3 linked regions of the Homo sapiens genome follow. The protein of the gene in region 3 interacts with the protein of the main gene of each other region in a pairwise test. Each region holds a gene or a part of one and is shown on either strand. Other genes may lie near its edges.

Region 1 (7,025 bases), on a different chromosome or scaffold from region 3:
GCATTTGTGGAGCTTCATGCCTGGAGGGCAAGGGAAAGTCAGTGAGAAGCATCCAGACCTTCACCCCGCAACAGTGCCCTGCGCTGGGAATAAAATCCAGGCTCTTTCCCCACCAGCACCTGTGTGATCTGGCCCCAGCTCTCTCCACCCTCGTCGTCTGCCTTCTTCCAGCCACTCTCTGCGCCAGCCACACTCGCTCTCCTCAGAGATGCCACGCTGGCTCCTCCCTCTGCGCCTTTGTACTTGCCATTCTCCTCTGCCTGGAACAGCTGCTCACTCTCTGCACCTTGGCTCGCTTTGCCAGGTCATCTCAGGCTCAGGGAGGGGCCGTGACGCCTGAGGCCACCCACAGGAACATGGCAGCACTAAGACTCCAACCCAGCCCTGTGTGTCCAAGTCATTGACCTACTCTCCCAGTTTTCACACTTTCTTTAGTGACTGACTCCTTTCTGTAAACCTTCTCAAACAAGGGAGACTTTACCCCCCAGAGGACTCAGCAATGCCTAGAGACATTTTTGGTTGTCACAACTGTGGGGGGATGCCACTGACACCAGTAGATAGAAGCCAGGGATACTGCTAAAAATCCTACAGGGCACAGGACAGCCCCCAGGACAAAATTATCTACAGGATTACAGGCCAGGCGCCGGTGGCTCACACCTGTAATCCCAGCACCTTGGGAGGCCAAGGCGGGCAGATCACTTGAGGTCAGGAGTTCGACACCAGCCTAGCCAACATGGTGAAAACCCCATGTCTACTAAAAATACAAAAATTAGCTGGGTGTGGTGGCAGGCACCTGTAATCCCAACTACTTGGGAAGCTGAGGCAAGAGAATCGCTTGAACCTGGGAGGCAGAGGTTGCAATGAGCCAAGATCACACCACTGCACTCCACCTGGGTGACAGAGGGAGGCTCCGTCTCAAAAAAAAAAAAAAAAAATTATCTGGCCCAAATTGTCAATGGTGCCAGGGTTGAAGAACCTTGTTTTAGACCTCGGCTGGCATGTGGAAAGCCAGCCAGGCTGCTCTGAGGAGGCGCTGAGAAACTGAGGAGTGGCTTGGAGACCCCTGCCCTGCCCTATCAAAGAAGCTTCCTGGCCATGTCTTGGACCTGGCTGGAATCTGATTCCCTCCACACCTCGTCCACACCTCTATTACACTGGGCACTGCTCCAACTGAGTCATCTCTGCTCAGGTCAGCTTCCTCCTTGGACTGGGGGACTGTGTCTGATTCATCTCTGTTCACCCTTAAGTCCCTAACACAGGCCTGGCTCATAGCCCACATAAGTGAAAGTGCTGGCTGGAATGTGCCAGGCAGGGAAAACAAGCCTCACAGGATATGTCTGCTCTTTCTCTTCCTGGCGGGTCTATCCCAGTGAACTAGAGCTGAACCAGACCCTCTTAGCAGGCCCAAGAGCCACTTACCAGAGTGGGAGAGGATGTGGGCCTTCAGCTTGTCCGGCCGGTTGAACTCCTTACTGCAGCCTGTGTGCGTCCTAAAACCCAAAGCCACTGGTCAGGGGGAGCTCACCAAGCTTAGGATCCTCTTGCTGGCCCCTCCACTAGCCCTGGGCACAAGGGACAGCCTTGTCCACCCTAAGGGCTGGGCAAGGAGGTAGGGTGGGAAGTGAGGCAGGCAGGGCCCAGGACAGGATAAAAGGAGAGAGGCCTGGCCAGGCACAGTGGCTCACGCCTGTAATCTCAGCACTTTGGGAGGCCGAGGTGGATGGATCACTTGCGGTCAGGAGCTCGAGACCAGCCTAGGCAACATGGCGAAACTCCATCTCTACTAAATCTGTAATCTCAGCTACTTGGGAAGCCGAGGCAAGAGAATCGCTTGAACCCAGAAGGCAGAGGTTGCAGTGAGACAAGATCTTACCACTGCACTCCAGCCTGGATGACAGAGTGAGACTATGTCTCCAAAAAAAAAAAAAAGGAGAGGCCTGCCCTCAGGCCTGACATCTGTCCCACCCTCCCCAGCAGCACCCCTGGAGAATCTGTCCCGCTACCCACCCCCCTGCATGGCAGTCTCTACTCACGAGAAAGGGCATTTGTATTTCTTGAAGGGCTCGTGGATCAACATGTGTCTCTTCAGTTTGTCCTTGCGGTTGAACGCAGACTCGCACACTGAGCATTTGTAGGGCTTCTCACCTGCAGCAGACACAGACAGGGAGAGCCAGCACTCACCAGGAGTCGGCATCCAGGGCACAAGGGTCCCCGCTGGGCCCCTCAGGGGAGCAGCTCCTCTAGGGAGGTGGCCAGGGGAGAAAATAGCCTCTCTCATTCTTCAGTGGCTTTGTTTTGCCAGAGACAAGACAGGGCTATTTTGACAGGATGGTCAGGAGAGGCCTCTCTGATGAGGCCATGCATGAGGAGAGACCTCAGGTCATCAGGGAGATGGTCTGGGCAGCAGGGAAAGCAGGTACAAAGGCCCTGAGGCAGGAGTGCGTTTGGCGGTGCTGATGAACAACAGGGAGGCTGGTGTGGCCAGAGAACAAGGCAGAAGGTGAGGGCAGCGAGCCAGCCAGGTCCGCATGGGAGGACCTGGGAGGCAGAGCTAAGGACTTGGCTTTTATTTATTTATTTTTTTTGAGACAGAGCCTTGCTCTGTCACCCAGGCTGGAGTGCAGTGGCAAGATTTCAGGTGAGTCACTGCAACCTCTGCCTTCTGGGTTCAAGCAATCCTCCTACCTCAGCCTCCTGAGTAGATGGGATTACAGGTGTGTGCCACCACGCCCAGCTAATTTTTGTATTTTTAGTAGAGATGGGGGGTTTCACCATGTTGGCCAGGCTGGTCTCGAACTCCTGACCTCAAGTGATCCACCTGCCTTGGCCTCCCAAAGTGCTGGGATTACAGGCATGAGCCACCGCGCCCAGCCAGGACTTTGGCTTTTACTCTGAGCCAGAAGAGAAGCACCAGAAGGTCTGAACAGCAGAGGGATGGACTCTGATGTAAGCTTTTAACCAGCTCGAATGAGGGTGGAGGTGAGGATAACCAGGAAGTGGCCCAGGACAGCCATGTTGGGAAGGCACAGTCGGCAGCCCTTGCCACTGGACTGGCTGTGACTGTGAGAGGAGGAGAGGAGTCAAGGATGAGGCACGGCCTGAGAAGCAAGGTGGCCTCATGTCATTTCTGGCAATGCGGTCCACCCTGGGGGACGAGGAATCACACCTTATCTAACTGAATCCTTCCAAAAAACCAGGAGGCACTGACTCCCATCATCCCTGTTTCACAGATAAGAAAGAAGACTGAAGTTCAGAGAGGTGAAGGGACTGGCTCAGGGGCTACCCCTATGGTTGCGGGAGCTAAGATTCCAGCCCAGCAGCGTGATCCAGAGCCCATCTGAGCTACCCAGATCTTCCTGCTGTTAAACCCGTCCTGGGGCAGCTCTTGCCTGATGGGCTACCTGAGGAACCCACAGGAAATCAAGGGAGGTGCCTGCAAAGTTGCCGTGGGGTCACAGCCTGCCCTTTGGAAGGGGCTGTTTCTGGGCTGCTGTGACTTCCTGCCATTATTTCCTCTCTGTTCTCCCTCTGGAATGAATAAAGTACTTCTGAAAAACCATCAACCCAGTCGATACGGAAATGCTGGTCCCTACAATAGAATGCTCTGTGGTCATTAAAAAGATTAAAAAGGTCAATCTGTGTTTCCTGATCTGGAAAGATCTCCTGGACATACTGCTAGTGGGGAAAGAAAGCAGTAGAACAGCTTAACACAATCTCGTCTTTCTTAGAAAAAAATATAATCCCTACTGGATATGTAAGCTCCAACAAAAAAAAAAGAAAGAAAAAATACAACCTGCACACCCCAAAAAAGCCCTGGCCATGTGTCTCTGTAAATAAACTGAAGATGCAGGAAGAAAGATGGGGAGGTGTAGGGAAAGGACAGACCAAAGTGTCAGTGGCAACTACAACTTGAAGGGGAAATTTAACATTTTACTTTATGTACTCCTATATTGTTTCCATTTTTATAATAACCATGTATTATTTGTGTGGTTTTTTTTGTTTTGTTTTGTTTCGTTTTTTGTATTTTTTTTTTTTTTTTTGAAACAGAGTCTTGCTCTGTTGCCCAGGCTGGAGTGCAGTGGTTTGATCTTGGCTCACTGCAACCTCCATCTCCTGGGTTCAGGCAATTCTCCTGCCTCAGCCTCCTGAGTAGCTGGGATCACAGGTGCGTACCACCACACCCGGCTAATTTTTGTATTTTTAGTAGAGACGGGGTTTCATCACGTTGGCCAGGCTGGTCTCAAACTCTTGACCTAGGTGCTCCACCCACCTTCACCTTCCAAAGTGCTGAGATTACAGGCATGAGCCACCGCGCCTGGCAGCATGTATTACTTTTGAATAATAATTTTTAAAAGCCATAAAGAGCAATTTGGTAATATCAAACTTACAATGCATTACTTCTTTTCCCTTCTTTATTGTGGAGAAATATACATAACAGAAAATTGACCATCTTAAGCTTCTTTTAAGTGTATAGTTCAGTGGCATAAGTACATTTGCACCATCATGCAACCATCACCATCATCTGTCTCTAGAATTTTTTCATCATCCCAAACTGAAACTCAGTATTACACATGCATTTTAACCTAGCATTTCCACTCCTAAGAATATACACTACAGATACACTTCCAAAAGCTTGCCAAGGGACCCACACAGCATTGTGTGTACAAACTAATAGCTGAAATGTAATTTAACGGTTCATACATAGGCTGGGCGTGATGGCTCATGCCTGTAATCCCAGCACTTTGGGAGGCTGGGGCGGGGGGATCACTTGAGGTCAGGAGTTCGAGACCAGCCTGGCCAACATGGTGAAACCACATATCTACTAAAAATACAAAAATTAGCTGGGCGTGATGGTGCACACCTGTAATCCCAGCTACTTGGAAGGCTAAGGCAGGAGAATTGCTTGAACTCAGGCGGCAGAGGTTGCAGTGAACCAAGATCGTGCCATTCAGTCTCAAAAAAAAAAAAAAAAAAAAAAAAGGTTCATACATAGAGAACTGGCTAAATACAAGATGAAAAATTCATTGAGGAAGACTACTCAGATGTGAAAAAGAAGGTGCTGTTGGTAACAACTTCTGGGGGGGGCCCGGGGGAGGGGGACCCACAGAATTTAGCCTCCAGGGGAACTGTAAGCACACATTCCTTGGGGAACATCGCCAAGGTATATGATAAGGAAAAAAAGGCACATAAGTTATAGTATGTGCTCATTTTTGCAAACGTAAGCAAGCGTTTTATATATGTGTAAAATAAAACTAGAAGAATGCAGACTAGACCGCTAACAGTTACCTTTGGGGAAGAGAATTAGGAGTATTTTGCAAACTGCAAACCACAAGTTACACCCTGTTGGTGGTTATTTTAAGAATTAAAAATAGGCTGGGTGTGGTGGCTTGCATCTGTAATCCCAGCACTTTGAGAGGCCAAGGTGGGTGGGTAACCTGAGGCCAGGAGTTTGAGACCATCTTGGCCAACATGGTGAAACCCCGTCTCTACTGAAAATACAGAAATTAGCCAGGCATGTGGTGGGCGCCTGTAATCCCAGCTACTCGGGAGGCTGAGGCACGAGAATGGCTTGAACCTGGGAGGCGGAGGTTGTAGTGAGATCATACCATTGCACTCCAGCCTGGGTGACAGAGTGAGACCCTGTCTCAAAATAAAAATAAAAAATAAAAAAACTAAAATTGAAAAGGACAAAATAGAAAACACTGTTTTGTAAAACTTTTGTTGCAATACATCCTATGTGTGCTTCCTGGGTTGCAATATGAAATGTATTTTTTACCATAGGTCGTAGGAAAGAAAAAAAAGGAAAAACATTGGATTGTCCATCTGAAGTGAGAGGGAGTTTATTTTTTTATATATGCTTTTGTCCCGTCAAGGATTTTCCCTCAAGTTTTCTCAATCTTTAGATCCTTTTCAATTAAAAAGCAATTAAAAAATTTAACTAATAAAAAAATCTAAAGATTAATAGAAAAGAAAATGTCAGTGTGTTTCAACTGGGGAACCAAGGAGATGGCGTTTTGTTCAGGTTTGAGTGGGAACTTACAGTGAGAGCAGTGTCCCCACCACAGGGGGCAGAGTCAAGAGTCCCTCACACAGGCTGGGTGCAGTGCCTCACGCCTGTCATCCCAGCACTTTGGGAGGCCGAGGCAGGAGGATCACCTGAGGTCAGGAGTTCGAAACCAGCCTGGCCAACATGGCAAAACCCTGTTTCTACTAAAAATACAAAAAACTAGCTGGACATGGTGGTGGGAGCCTGTAATCCCAGCTACTCAGGAGGCTGAGGCAGGAGAATCACTTGAACCCGGGAGGCAGAGGTTGCAGTGAGCCAAGATCTGCCACCGCACTCCAGCCTGGGCAACAAGAGCGAGACTTTGTCTCAAAGAAAAAAAAAAAAAGAATAAAAAGTCCCTTCCACACAACCTCCAGGGGCTCTTCTCTGCTTTAGCGGTGGTGGGAATCCCTTGTTCATGAATTAAGGCAGGTGGATCAGGGGCCAGGAAGGAGAGAGGAAGGAGGAGCAAGGGGAGAGGCAGGAGGGCTGGAGGGAGACAGACAGCGACAGAGAGGAGGGGGAGGGGGCTGGAGGGAGAGGGGAGAGGACAGGGGAGGGAGGCTGGAGGGGGCTAGAAGGAGATGGGGAGAGGGAGGGGAAGGGAGGCTAGAGGGAGATGGGAAGGAGGAGGGAGAAGGGGGCTGCAGGGAGATGGGGAAGAAGAGGGAGATGGGGAGGGTGAGGGAGATGGGGGGGAGAGAGATGGAGAGAGGGAGGGAGATGGGGGAGGGGGAAGGAGATGGGGAGAGGGAGGGAGGTGAGGAGGCGGAGGGAGGGGGGAGGGAGAGGAGTAGGGAGAGGGAGAGGGGAAAGGAAATGGGGAAGAGGAGGGAGAAGGGTGCTGGAGGGAGATGGGGAGGAGGAAGGAGATGGGGAGGAGGAGGGAGATGGGGAGGAGGAGGGAGACGGGGGCTGAGAGAGATGAGGGGAGGGACTGAGTGAGATGGGGAGGGAGATGGAGAAGTGGAGGGAAAAG
Region 2 (7,025 bases), on a different chromosome or scaffold from region 3:
GTTCCCAAAATGATTCAGGTATACATTTGTATATTGTGTTGACTAATAACTAAAACTTACTAAATTCTGTGTACTTTATAAATACATGTACAAACTAGTTTTTTCACAAAAATCCTATAAGATAGACATTATTATCTCCCTTTTACAGAAAAAGAATCTGACAAGAAAGAAGTTAGGTAGCTTATTCAAGATCACTCTAATGGCAGACAGAATAGGGATATAACCCAGGTGGTCTGACTTCAATGTCCCAGTCAGGGCTAGAGAGTGAATGTCTCTGCATTCTGTACCCCAGGACCCTCACTTGCCTCCCTTTAATCCCAGTACTAGTCCAAATTCCTAGTCTCTAAACTAGACTGCTGCTATCAGAGCAGGTCACCGACCATCAAAACCATCTCAGGTGCCATTCACCAACAACCCAAGATCTAGTCAAAACTCTGTTACCTTCCTGCTTACTGCTAAGTACTGTATATGTCACATAGAGGCAAAAGGGCTAGGTTCATGGCTCTACCATTTATTAGCTAAACGACCTTGTCAAAGCACATTCCAAGTCTACTTTCTCACCTATAAAATGTGATGAGACCTACTGCTCCCCAAGTTAATCCCCTTATCACTCCCCTACTGTTAATCCCCAAGACCATGGAGAAAATGTCTCCAGGCCACATCAGAGACCTTCACTGCAGCCCGTCACATCACAAGCCCAGAGGTTAGGTGGCTAAACCTGGCAACATGGTGGGCTAGAAATTCTGAAGGATTCTCCTACTTTCACAAAACATCTAGCTCCTGGATAAAATATATTACACTTCTAGGTTCCCAAGAAATAATGCTGTAGAAACAGAGCTTTCCCTAAGAATAAATGAAATGAAATAGTAGATTATTATTCAACTTATGGTCCAAATATTTACACATAATTAGAGTGTATCAAGTACTTTATATATATATATATATATATATATATATATATAACTAGAGTATATTTAGAATAGTGGTTCTCAGCCAGAGGTGATTTTGGCCCCCGGCGACATCTGGCAATGTCTAGAGACATTTTTGGTTACAACTGAAGAGTGCTACTGGCATCTAGTGGGCAGAGGCCAGTTGTGCTGCTAACATTCTACAATCAATAGGACAGCCCCTGCAACAAAGAATTAACCAGTGCAAAATGTCAATAATGCCAGTGTTGAGAAATCTGAACCAGAGGCAGATAAACTGAATTTCAGATATACTTCCAATTGAGGCAACTCTTCTCATTTGTTTTATTAAAAAGAGAGAAAATGTTTTATATCTCCCACAGTACTTGACATTTGGACATAGGTAGGTTGGAAAATCTAGAAATCAGGTTGATTTTATCATTCACTTTGAAGAGAATTTCTACAGTGTCATTCCCACCCACAGACACTCACCAATCCAAAACACATTTACATTCGAATATAGATTTACTGAAAACCAGGGCTGTATTTTATTGTGTTTTTTCTACCTCTCACAGTTTACACATTAAAGTAGGCCTGCAGTGTTTCAAAAGATAACCTCAAAGATTGGGTTGAAATATTCTTATCATCTCCCTTTCTGCTTACCTCATTAACCCTCAAATTACATGCATTCTCATCATTCATCTTTGTTCTCAATCTAATTCACCACTGCCTCCTTTACAGCCTTATACAAGCTTTTGATAAGTTTGTAAAATGGCCCCAGAAAGTAGGGAGAGGGGCTAGAGCTAATGACAGGCTTTCTAAACCATAAAATATGAAATTAAAGTTCGTTTTATTAAGCAAGAATGTCTAAACCTGAGCAGTCCAATATGGCAGCAACTAGCCATATGTAGTGATTTAAGTTTAGATTAATAAAAATTCAGTTCCTCAGTTCCACCAACCACATTTTGAGTGCTTAATAAGCACATGTGGCTAGTGGCTACCATACTGAAGAGCACAGGTACAGAACACTTTCATCACTGCAGAAAGTTCTATTGGACAATGCTGGCTGTCCAGCTGTTAAATCTAGGGCATATTCTAGAAATTCTAATGAGATCCTGAAGAAATTCAGTGCAGAGAATTAAAATAACAAACTCATTTTAGTCTAACCGTTTTATTTTTAACTCCAATACAACCCAGATAGAAGAGTATGGCCCATTTAAAAACAACAAGAATATTACACTATTTTGTTCAGTTAGATTCAGGTGCCGTATCTATTATCAAACACTTCAATCAAATACTTACTGAATGCCAACCACATATGCCCAGACATCGTGGTAGAAGCTGGGGATTCAAAATTGAGTAGGTCACATTTTTTGTCATTTAAAAACTAACCATTAAACTAAAAATCAGTGTGTTACCTATAAAATATGTACTAAAAAAGTCATATATAACAAAAATGGAGGTGGAAACATTTGGTCTCAAAGATGCTCATTCTCTTCGAGAGAATGTCTTGATTCTACTATTAACGATAGGGAAAATTCTCCAGATTTTCATTGTGAAAAGCGAGAGTAGATAACAATCTAGACTGACCACTAGTTTGACCTAGAGAAAATTACCTAACATCTTTAGAACTGATTTTCTACACCTAAAAATGCTGCATCTTCTATACAAGGTCACAAAACTACAAGGACAACCATTATAAAAGTATAACATAAATTGCAAAAAACTCATTCCACGTTACACTAAGGAATCAAAAGAAGCTTGTTTTCTTATTATTCACATCCCTCAGTTACTTCATGCTACTTGAACAATTTATATTGTTCTTCTTCCAACTCATGTCTCGGAATTAGCACTCTTACACTTGTATTTTTAGATACCTACTCTTCACTATTAGTAACCTGTAATTTTTCTCAAGGTAAATAAATATTTGCTCATCTGTTTCACACCTATATATTTTTCCTACCTCACACAGGAAATATTTTTGGGTTTTTCTGTTTTTTTTTTTTTTGAGACAGAGTCTTGATCTGTCACCCAGGCTGCAGTGTAGTGGCATGATCTCGGCTCACTGCAACCCCCGCCTCCTGGGTTCAAGCCATTCTCCTGCCTCAGCCTCCCCAGTAGCTGGGATTACAGGCACGCACCACCATGCCCAGCTAATTTTTGTATTTTTAGTAGACATAGGGTTTCACCATGTTGGCCAGGCTGGTCTCAAACTCCTCACACAGGAATATTCTTATTGAAAATTCTAGAGAAGTTTCCTGTAGATACCTATTAATAAATACGCCAAGACCTACCTCATCACCGCAATCAAGGTAAGATTTGCAACTGGTTGCCAAGTTGCAGCCTCGACACCTATGCTGAATGGATGAGACCACAACAAATGTTCCTTAACATTTATTAACTGTGATTATTTATTTGTACATAGATTTAAAGGAGCCTAATAATCAACTTCTAAACCAGCAGTTCTAAAACTCTTTCATCTCAGGACGATTTATCAAATTACTGAGACCCGGCCGGGAGCGGTGGCTCATGTCTGTAATCCCAGCACTTTGGGAGGCCGAGGTGGGGGGATCACAAGGTCAGGAGATCGAGACCATCCTGGCTAACACGGTGAAACCCCATCTCTACTAAAAATACAAAAAAATTAGCCAGGCGTCGTGGCGGGCGCCTGTAGTCCCAGCTACTTGGGAGGCTGAGGCAGGAGAATGGCATGAACCAGGGAGGCAAAGCTTGCAGTGAGCCAAGATAGCACCACTGCACTCCAGCCTGGGTGACAGAGCGAAACTCCGTCTCAAAAAAAAAAAAAAATTACTGAGACCCTCAAAGAGCTTTTCTGTATGTGAATTACATCCACCTATATTTATACTAATAGAAATTATAACAAATTTTTAATTTTCACTAATTTGTTTAGAAATAATGGATCCATTATATGTTAACATAAATAACATTTTTCTGAAAATAGCCATATTTTAGTAAATAAAATTGAGTGAGAATGACAAATGACTTAAAGGAAAATAGCTAGATTCTCGTATCTGACCCTGTTTTTGCTTTGTTTTGGTGGAGGTGTACAAAGAAAATCTGCCTTCCTACAATTAAGTAGTTGGGAAAAGAAAAGGTACTTTTAAGTGACAGTTTCTTAATAGTTAGTTACAATGCAGAATATGAAACCATATAACTGTGAACTTTTCATACTTTTAAAGTCCATTAATTTATCTTGCATTTTGAATGAATTTTCCAACATTATGCATTGGATATTCAGAAAATACAAGTTCAGTGAATTATATGGATCTTTCAACTGTAAACACACTTCATTACGGAATATCAAACAATCAAATTTCTTAATATCAACATTGAGTCCTCATCTTTTTAATATTCAGTTTGTCAGAAATGAGAAGTATACATAAAGCATTTCTGCTGCTTATTTACAGTTATCTCAAGGAAAAGCACCTGTGCACTTGAATTGTGAATTTAACTGGTCACTTTTCTCACAGAATACAACTTTTACTTGAAAGAATGACGGGCAAACTATGATTTTCCAGACTTAAGCATTTAGTCAACCTTGTGGACCCCCTGAAAGAACCCTTGGGGAGAATCCAGGGCTCCATGAACTATACCTTGAGAACCACTATTCTAATCAACAGGGCAAAAATATTCCACAATTTCATGAGTCATTACAATGCAAGGAAAACACAACTGCTAATAAAAAAAATCTAAATATTTCCACTTGAATCCAAGATACAGAAAACCAGCTCTCAATGTAAAATATATTCAAAACATTCGGCCTACATAAAGGGTCTACTTCAAGAACCTAAAATTCTTTTATCAAGCACTTAATCCCTACAACTTAAAACACACTTTAGAATACAGGTACATTAAGACCATTAAAAAAAGATAAGATTAAGGCTGGGCGCTGTGGCTCACACCCATAATCCTATCACTTTGGGAGGCCGAGGCGGGAGGATCACTTGCAGCCAGGAGTTCGAAAGCAGCCTTGACAACATGGTGAAAACCATCTCTACCAAAAATACAAAAATTAGCCAGGCATGCTGGCATGTGCCTGTAGTCCCAGGGGTGGGAGGATGGTTTGAGTCTGGGAGGCAGAGGTTGCAGTAAGTCCAGATTGTGCCACTGCACTCCAGCCTGGGCGACAGAGCCCGACCCTGTCTCAAAAATAAAAAACGAAAAAAGAAAGCAACAAAATTCTTCCAGACATGTCAAGTAATTAGACCATAAAATGTAGAATGTTAACTATCCAATAATAACTGCTAATGCTACTATCAAGCATTGTGCTAAGATTTTATATGGTTATTCCATTTAATCCTCAAAACAAACCTATAAGGTAAGTACTACCAATTTCCATCTTACGTATAAGAAAACTGAAATATAAATGTAGCTTGCCTAAGGTCAGAGGAAGAATGCATGGCAGAGTTGGGATTTAAAACCAGCACACTTCACTCAACTATACGTTCATCCTATAGAAAAATTACAGATTCATCTCCGGCTAAAGAAAATGTTTTGTGGGGGAAAAGTAGGAATATTTTAAAAAAAAGACAAACTCACAGTTTTTAGTTCCATCAGTACTTGTTCATCCACTCCATCATCCAGAAAGATGTCTCTCACATCATTAATGACATCTTCAATCACAGATCTGTATAATTTAGGCTTTAAAGGAAAAATAAAAGACTTGAAAAAGACAGTTTTTCACAGCTTATAATGTATAACAGGTTTTCACAAATTCAAAACGAATAGTCATTTTGCCAACTATCTATATATGACTTTAAAGATACGACCACCATCATTTGCCATAAACTGGATTTGATGACTGCACACTTTAATAAAAATTTTAAGATTAATGCAGTTCATAAACAGAAGGCCCCTAAGACTACAAGGTCCATACAATTTCCAATTATAATTTCCTATGTTGTAGTCAAAATACCTAATGTAATGTTCAATAATAGCTTTACGGGTTGCTTATGTCTGGCTTCTACTATTCCATGCTTGGTTTGAACTCTGTTGTATGTCTTACTACCTCACCACTGTATCTTAGACTTTGGAGAATCTTATGTCCGGGAGTCATCTGCCTGGTAATAATCTGCAACCTAATGAACATTCAGGTTTAAAAATCACCTAACTTCTGTTGTGTGACCCAGTCTGTACTTTCAAGCTGTACCATTAAACTACTCATACACTCACAATGGCAGGTCTTAAGGTCCCAAGGAACAAGGTATACTGATTTCCTTCCCAGGATTTCTCCTCTACTACTGCCCAGGTAATGCTATGAAACATTATAATGAACATGAACCCTCTAAATGTTTACTATTATTATTACAATTAGCACCGTTGATACTACTTGGAGGAGCGGGAAGTAAAGAAGCTGGCTTCTAGAAGGTTGAATGGTAAAATGAGTAAAATGAGAATAGATGTGAAAGAACTTTCAAAAAGTATAAAATATTTTTTAAAAACTACAAAGTGGGAGATAGAACAATTAGCCCAATCCACATCCTATTTTTTCCCCCACATCCTATTTTTAACCTGTTAGACAAAAGGAAGTCATGTCAGATGACAAAACTAGAGCTGCCTTGACAAAACTAGAGTTGCCTGGTTATAAATCCTCCCCATTATCAGAGGGTTATGGTTAACAAGCTTTTTAGATGTTTTCTCATTACTTCTGTTTCATACCTTGCTTAAGGTTAATCGCTATCAAATAAAACCAATTTTGGGAGGATCGCTTGAGCTCAAGAGTTCAAGACCAGCCTGGGTAACATAGTGAAACCCAATCTCCACAAAAAATTAGCCAGGAGTGGTGGCACGTGCCTGTAGTCCCAGCTGCTTGGGAGGCTGAGGTGGGAGGATGGCTTGAGCCCAGGAGGGAGAGGGTGCAGTGAGCCAAGATTGCACCACTGCCCTCCAGCCTGGGTGACAGGCCCAGACCCTGTCTCAGAAAACAAACAAATACAAATGAGTTTGTCAATACAATTTACCTCAACCATTAAATACTATTTAATCCTTCTCATTACAAGAAAACCAATTCAAATATCTGGGTTCTTGCTTTACTGTTCACTCACTAACCTGCTTTATTTTGCCAAATCCGCCTCTTGAAGTTTATTCATCTGTAAAATG
Region 3 (7,025 bases):
ACCAGGATGGGACTCAGGTCTTCCAATCTCCAAACCTACCATGCTTTATTCTACCTCACTGGATTTTCCCTTAGGAAGGTGCTGGATTCGGGACAGGAGGAACATGGCCACCACAGCTGGAGCTCGCCCCTGACTCCCAGAGCTCTCTGGGTCTTTCACGCCCCCCACACTCTCTGCAGCCTGCTGTCCCCAGCACAGACAACACTAAGGTGAAGAGGCATCTTTCCTACCTGCCTGGCCCCAATTATGTTCTTTCCCAAACTTATTATTGCCACTTGTCCTTGTAATTTGGATATTCCATAAGCTGTTAAACATGAGTGCCACGAAGTCTGAGGTAAGCTGAATCTTTAGAAAGACTCGATAAAGGAAAGGGAATGGTTACAAGAGCTGCTGCGGCATTTGGTGTGGTGGATTCAACCGTAAGGGACTGGGTCATGAAGCGTTAAAAACCAGGCTTCTGCTCTCAAATCGCTTAGGAAGTGTTTGAAGTGTCCAAGCCTCCATGCAGAAGTCACAGAAGTGGTACAGAAGTGTGCTTAATGCAAGGGGGAAAATGAGGACTCCAGTCAGTCAGACCCAAATCTGAAAAGACCTTAGCCTACAGCACAAGATTTCTATGACTTAAGGGCTAATATTACTTGCTTTAAGTTAAAATTAAGTGTTACGGCGTGCGTGCGTGTTTTTATGATTCTTCGCTGTAACTGACTTCTTTGATGATCTGACCAGCTGCTGGTCCCCAGTGAGCTGGATAAGAGGCAGCCATATCTAATCCACTCAAGATGACTGACCCACCCAGGTCTCCATCGGGGAGTGTCCAAGGTGAGCCTCGGCGACTTGTGCTAGAATAAGGTGCTCAAGTGTGAGTGCGCTCCCAGCAAATGGATGCAGAAGCCAGCTTGAAGGGGTTTCCAGGTTGGCCAAATTTGGAACAATTTGTGTATCAAAAGAAGTAAATAACAAAAAAAGGACTAAAATGGATTATAACATTAGTTTCAAAATCCTTGAGCCCATAGCGATTAAGAAAAAAAAAAAAGAGAGAGAGAAGAAAGTGAAAAGAAAGCTCTGCTTTACAGAAAAATGTCAGCTAACAATGTAGAAGAATTTCTACTCAACTGAGTACTTCAGGCAAGGGTGATCAACACATGCTAAACCACTGGGTGAGTGACTGTCAGTAAACAGGATATTCACATTGTGCTGAAGTATCACCCCAAATACTAACAAGAGAGGAGGAAATGAACCCTTATGGTAGAGAGATCAGCTGTAGCATCACTAAGAGGAGGTGATAATAATCTTACAGATACAATCTGCCATCACATGCTTTCTGATGTAGAGACCTGCCAAAAACATTCGTGCCAAAAACATTTAACTTGAACCTAATCAAGCCTCTCCACCTAACTTCTGGTTTCCAGGAAATACAAGGAATACAGAGAAATGTTCAACGCTGTCATGAGGAAAAAAGCAAACAAACCAGAATGGGGCATCCTATAACCCACTGCCTGGACTCTTCAAAATGGAACTTCAACATGGAACAAAATATAGGTGGAAAGATTTGTAAATTCCAAGAGACAGAATCAAATGTAACGCAAGACACCTGATTCCATCCTGGTATATAAAACCCAGTAGGTATCAAAACCCAGTAGGTAGCAAAATACCAACTCTATAAAAGACATTTGGGGACTAATTGGGGAAATTTGAATATGGATTGAATATGAGATGATGGATAGAAACAGTATTAACTGTTGAGGTGGGATAATGGTATTGTGGTTGGAAACACAATGTATTCCTTAGGAGACACGTGCTGAGGTCTTCAGGGATGAAGGGCCAGGATGCCTGCTACTTATATTCAAATGGTTCAGTAATAGGTAAAGATAAAGCAAATGTGGCAAAAGTATTAACAAATGTTGAATCTAGGTGGAGATACACAGGTATTCATGTTAACATTCTTTCAGCCAGATGCTGTGGCTCATGTCTGCAATCCCAGCACTTTGGGAGGCTAAGCCTGAGCCCAGGAGTTCAAGACCAGCCTGGGCAAAATAGCGAGATCGCACTTCTAAAAAATTTTTTTCTTTTAATTTTCTCTATGTCTAAAAATTATCAAAATAAGTTGAGAAAACAAAAACAAAATTTTAAAAATAATGAAAACTTGAAGTTTGCTCACGCTAAGCAAGCCCTGACTTCCCAGTTTACCAAAATTAAAAAGGGGTTAAAAAGTGATTGATTTAGCTGGGTGTGGTGGCAGGTACCTGTAATCCTAGCTACTCAGGAGGCTGAAGCAGGAGAATCGCTTGAACCTGGGAGGTGGAGATTGCAGTGAGCTGAGATCATGCCACTACACTCCAGCCTGGGTGACAGTAAGACTCTGTCACACAAAAAAAACAAAAAAACAGCCAACCAACCAAACAAAAAAAAAAAACAAGTGATTGGAAGAATAGGGAAAAAAAATAGATAATTGCCCACATTTGCCCCTTTAATCAGCTGAACATGAGATGACACAGAATGTTCACACAGAAGCTCTTGGTGAAAGGAATGCCATTCTCCAGCTACACGGGCACCAGCCCCCAAACCTGGAATTTAAAGGTTCTACTCCTGAAGATACAATGGGCTGGTTCTGTAGTTTTCAAAGGGCCATAGCCTATTACTCACAGGGTTCTCCTTACAGTCTTCGCTCAGCATCTCTGGAGCGATCCAGCCTTCTGTGCCAGGCACCCCAGATCGGCGGCTGAAACTGTGTCTGCCCACTGCCAGCTTCTTGCAGAGGCCAAAGTCGGAGATCATGGCCTTGATCTTGCCGTGTGCATTGGGCATGGATATGAGGATGTTGTGTGGCTTTAGGTCTCTGTGAACTAACAGAGAACTCCAGATTAGTCCAATGCTTACCAGGAGCAACCCCAGGCCTCCTCCAATGGGGAATGTGTCCTCGTCAGACTCCCAATATGCCTGCCGCCACCTCCAAATGTTCTGATTTTCAACTATGTCGGATTCCTCCTCAAATTCTTACACCACTCATCTTTGCTACTGGTGATATAGCCAAGAGCTTGAACAGAAGCAAGGCCCACCCGAGCTACTGGTTAGCCCCACCTGGGCCACTGATTCTCCCCACCCGGGCCGCTGGCCTGGTAAAGTGCAGCCTCTCACCGATGTTGAGGGAGTGGAGGTGGGCCAGGCCCGAGGTGGTCTGCTGCAGCAAGGTGATGGGCTCCAGGCCGAGATGCGCAAAGTCCTTCTGCTCCACATACTGCAAAAGACATGACAGCAAGGTCACGGCACACAGTCCTCAGGACTTGGCCCCTCGGCTCACTTTCTTTGATACCATTTTAAGAAAGAAATGGCAAGTTTTACTGACAACATTCTGTCTAAATCCATGTTTTCCAGCAAGGAGCAAACCTCCAAATCTACTAATTTACAATGAGAAAGATAAGAAGGCAAGAAACTCAAGTTCATTGCCTCATATAAGTAAACCTACAAAGGAATCCAAATGATACTGATATGGTTTCAAAGTGAGCCTGGAAAATGAGCAAAAGGAGCTTGCTGGATGATCTTAAAGCCTGGAGTTACCAACTGGCATCCTCCAAGCCCACACCAGCCATGACTGAAGAGGGAAAGAACAACTGTCCAGGTTTCCTGGAGGCAAAGAGGGAGAGACATGCCAACTGCAAGCAGACTGCCCAGGCATGCTGGGGGGACCACCCTGTTACAACCAGAGGGATAAAAATGCTCCACATTTTGACTGTGTATGTGGTTAAATGGGTATAGACATTTGTCAAAATTCATCAAGCTATTACATTTAAAATTAGTACAATTCACTGTAACTTTTTTTTAATTTGACGGGGTCTCACTCTGTTGTCCAGGCTGGAGTGCAGTGGCACAATCACTGCTTACTGCAGCCTTGATCTCCCAGGCTCAAGCAATCTTCCCACCTCAGCCTCCCAAGTAGCTGGGGCTACAGGAACACATCGCTAGGCCTGGCTAATTTTTGGTTTCTTTGTAGAGATGGGGTTTCACCATGTTGTCCAGGCTGGTCTCAAACTCCTGAGCTCACGTGATCTGCTCACTTTGGCCTCCCAAAGTGCTATGACTTTAATAAAGTTAACAAAATAAAAAAAATAAATCCACCTCTTGCAGGGTGGCTGCACACAGCTCGATGGCAATGTACTGGAATTGCCGGTCCTTCTCCGTGCAGAAGTAGCGGATCACGTTCGGGTGCTCATCCGATTCTCGCAACAGCTGGACCTCACGGTCTGCGAAGCTAAAACACTCGGGGAGGATCCTCTTCACGGCCACGTCGCGGTTGTCAAACATGCCCCTGCGGGATGAGGAGTGGGAGTTGTGTCTGGGAAGCACGAGTCAGGCTGTGTAAATGAGGTGAGAACCTGGGTCCACAGCATTCACCTACTGCCTCCCAGCCTAGAGAGCCCCGCCTGACTGCCTGGTGGCCCCGGAATCATCGCTTGTCTCAGTGTGCAAGCTCCCTGGAGGCCGGACTCCATGCGTCTAGGTCACTGCTTTGACCCTGCTGTGCTCTGAGCCTGGCACCAGGCTCGCAACCTGACAGGCACTTAGACACCAGGCGGTGAGGGCAGGGGGCTGGCTAATCCACTCACCGGTACACAATTGTGCCCTCAGCTCCATGGCCCAGGACATCCTTGGGACAGAAGGAAATTTTCCCAACTATCACCACGCTGGTTTCCTCATCTGGGACAAAATAGGAAAAAGAGATTGTTTCAAACAGATATCACCTAAAGAACCTTGAGGTTAACATAGTGACAAGCTTCCTGACCTCAGATTAAAAGATGGGATTTAAGAGGCACTGCACCCCAGACTGCTGCTCAGCAAGAGCCTGCCAGGCCCACTCCCCATGTACACCCAGGACTGCCTCTTCCCCCTGCCCCTGCATTCTGTCTCCGCCTTTACCTTATTGTGCGATTGCATATCTTAAAACCTTCTGGAAGGCAGGGATTCTCCATAGCGTTTCACACACTTATACATATTCATTGTGATATAGTTAGAATGGTTTAATAGTTAACAACCACCACAAAGTCCACTGTAAAGATCCGCACTGAAGCATTCAGGTGGCGGCAATGGACATGTAAAACGAGGAGACTCCTTGGGACAGAGGGCTCTGAGTTCCCTGCACCAGCTCTGTGCCAGTTCCCTCAGAATTGGGGCTCTGACAACTGGCTTGAGCCAACTTCCACAGAGGAAAGCAGACCAACTGTGACACTTCCACACTTGGCCACCGGCTGGCCCTGGGAACTCTCTTCAGCCCAATGGGCAGCTCACCTCTGGTCAGCCGCGACGCCCAGCCCTTGTGGAGAAAGACAGGAGGATGGCCAGGGTGGTTCCCAGAAGGCCCTCTGAAGGGGAGATGCCAAGGGATGGGGCAGAAGCCTTCCCACAGAGACCCCCAGAGTGGAAGTTAGAGGAGAACACAGTGAACCCCTGAGAATGGTAGTTTACAATCTTATGGAGACTCCTTGGACTTCTCAGGAGGTGCTCGAATAAAACATAAAATAGCACCAAGATGGCAACTGGCTTTACCTCCATCGTCTTGTTCCAGGGAGGGGCTGCTGCCAGCCTTGGAGGCAGAGCTGCCGGAGCAGAGCGAGTGGTTGGAGGCCCTGGGGGACGTGCTGGGGCTGCTGGTGCCCGAGCTCTCTGAGTACGGGCCAGACGTGTCCAGGAGCTCGCCGTCCTGAGCCGTGTCTCCAGGTGGGTGGAAGGGCAGCTGCTGCTGCTGCTGCTGCAGGAGCTGGATCTTCTCCAGTTCCTTCTGGAACTGCTGGTGCTGGAGCTGCTGCTGCTGATGCATGCTCTGGGAAGAGAAACCCACATCCAGACAAGGGCAGCTGTTCCCACAGGGAAACAAGCAGCTGGGAAGGGACAGGTCCCAGTGGCGGAGGGAGCATGTGTACTTTATGTGACCCAACAGGGCACAAAGAGACCAGTGAGAAGGCACCTGGAAGCAGAATTGCTTCGATGACTGGACGTCTTTCCACCGACTAGTTAGATCCTTGCTCATACAGCCCACTCCCCAACCCTAGGAGGGGCTGGATGGCCACCAGGGGAGGGACTGTGCCCTAGGTTGAGGGCTGTGCCAGTTTCATTCAGTTCTAAAATTCTGTGATTTTCATGAAAGTCTGAGAGTTGTTGCAAAGGTGAAACCAAACAGGAAGCACAGGTAGCATGGCTGAGCCAGTGGTGGGTGAGAGCAAGCCCCAGGTTCGCCACCCACCGTGTCTGTGTGTTGGCTAGAGGCTAGCGCACAGACACTCAGTAATCCAGAGGGGCAGGTGAGGAAGCTCTAGTATTCTAGGTATGCAGAGTACATCTGCATACACATAGCCAGGAGGTGGCAGTGGGGCTGACACATGGTGAGCCTGGCTGAGGTCCTGCTTCCGCCTTTCATCCCACTGCCTTCCCCGAGGCCACATGCCTCTCAAATACTCTGAAGGATTCATTCTGTCATTATCTGAAGTAGCAGCGATCTGTGATCATCCCTACCCATGTGCAGGAGGTGGACTGAAGGGACTTCTGTGAGCCACCAACCCACCAGGGAGTCGTCTCTTCTTCTCTCCACCATGGGGTGGAGTCCTAGAAATGCCGTCTACTAGCTGGGTACCCGTGGGGAAAGTTACTTAGCTTCTCAGGGTCTACTTCCTTCTTTTGTGGACAAGGGATCAATAATAATGACCTCATAGGACTGAGTGAGGTGAAAAGTGAAACTATCAGGTGCAGACGTGCCAGTGGGGAGTGCCATAAAGAGTCTGTCATTCCCATTCCTGGGCGGGTCATTAGCTTCCTGAGCTCTCAGGTAACAGCATCTCGATGCTCTGAGCAACCTGCTGAAGGACCATGCCCCTCACATATTTCATCCCACCCATGGCCTGTTCTGCTACAGAACTTGCTCATTTCCAACTAGGAAGTAAAGGGATGGCCACACTGCCTTTTTCACACAAGCTGATCTCACAGGCAGCTTCTTTTTTCTTTTTTTGGTTCTTCTCCCCAGCAGAAGTTCTAATGGCAGT

The links. Proteins that work in one complex are often made in the same cells at the same time.
Region 1: the proteins of ERN1 (region 3) and ZNF341 interact in binary tests that used the Homo sapiens proteins (3 or more experiments, as listed by UniProt).
Region 2: the proteins of ERN1 (region 3) and GTF2A1 interact in binary tests that used the Homo sapiens proteins (3 or more experiments, as listed by UniProt).

What each region holds. Positions count from the first base shown.
Region 1 is NC_000020.11:33,783,983-33,791,007, reverse strand, and holds part of ZNF341 (zinc finger protein 341), read right to left. Parts: intron 3,636-7,025; exon of another isoform or gene 3,231-3,635; intron 2,146-3,230; coding exon 2,034-2,145; intron 1,491-2,033; coding exon 1,420-1,490; intron 21-1,419; coding exon 1-20. UniProt on the Homo sapiens protein: Transcriptional activator of STAT3 involved in the regulation of immune homeostasis. Also able to activate STAT1 transcription.
Region 2 is NC_000014.9:81,210,948-81,217,972, forward strand, and holds part of GTF2A1 (transcription initiation factor IIA subunit 1), read right to left. Parts: intron 5,568-7,025; coding exon 5,466-5,567; intron 1-5,465. UniProt on the Homo sapiens protein: TFIIA is a component of the transcription machinery of RNA polymerase II and plays an important role in transcriptional activation. TFIIA in a complex with TBP mediates transcriptional activity.
Region 3 is NC_000017.11:64,050,137-64,057,161, forward strand, and holds part of ERN1 (serine/threonine-protein kinase/endoribonuclease IRE1 precursor), read right to left. Parts: intron 5,813-7,025; coding exon 5,539-5,812; intron 4,693-5,538; coding exon 4,602-4,692; intron 4,304-4,601; coding exon 4,114-4,303; intron 3,236-4,113; coding exon 3,136-3,235; intron 2,844-3,135; coding exon 2,644-2,843; intron 1-2,643. UniProt on the Homo sapiens protein: Serine/threonine-protein kinase and endoribonuclease that acts as a key sensor for the endoplasmic reticulum unfolded protein response (UPR).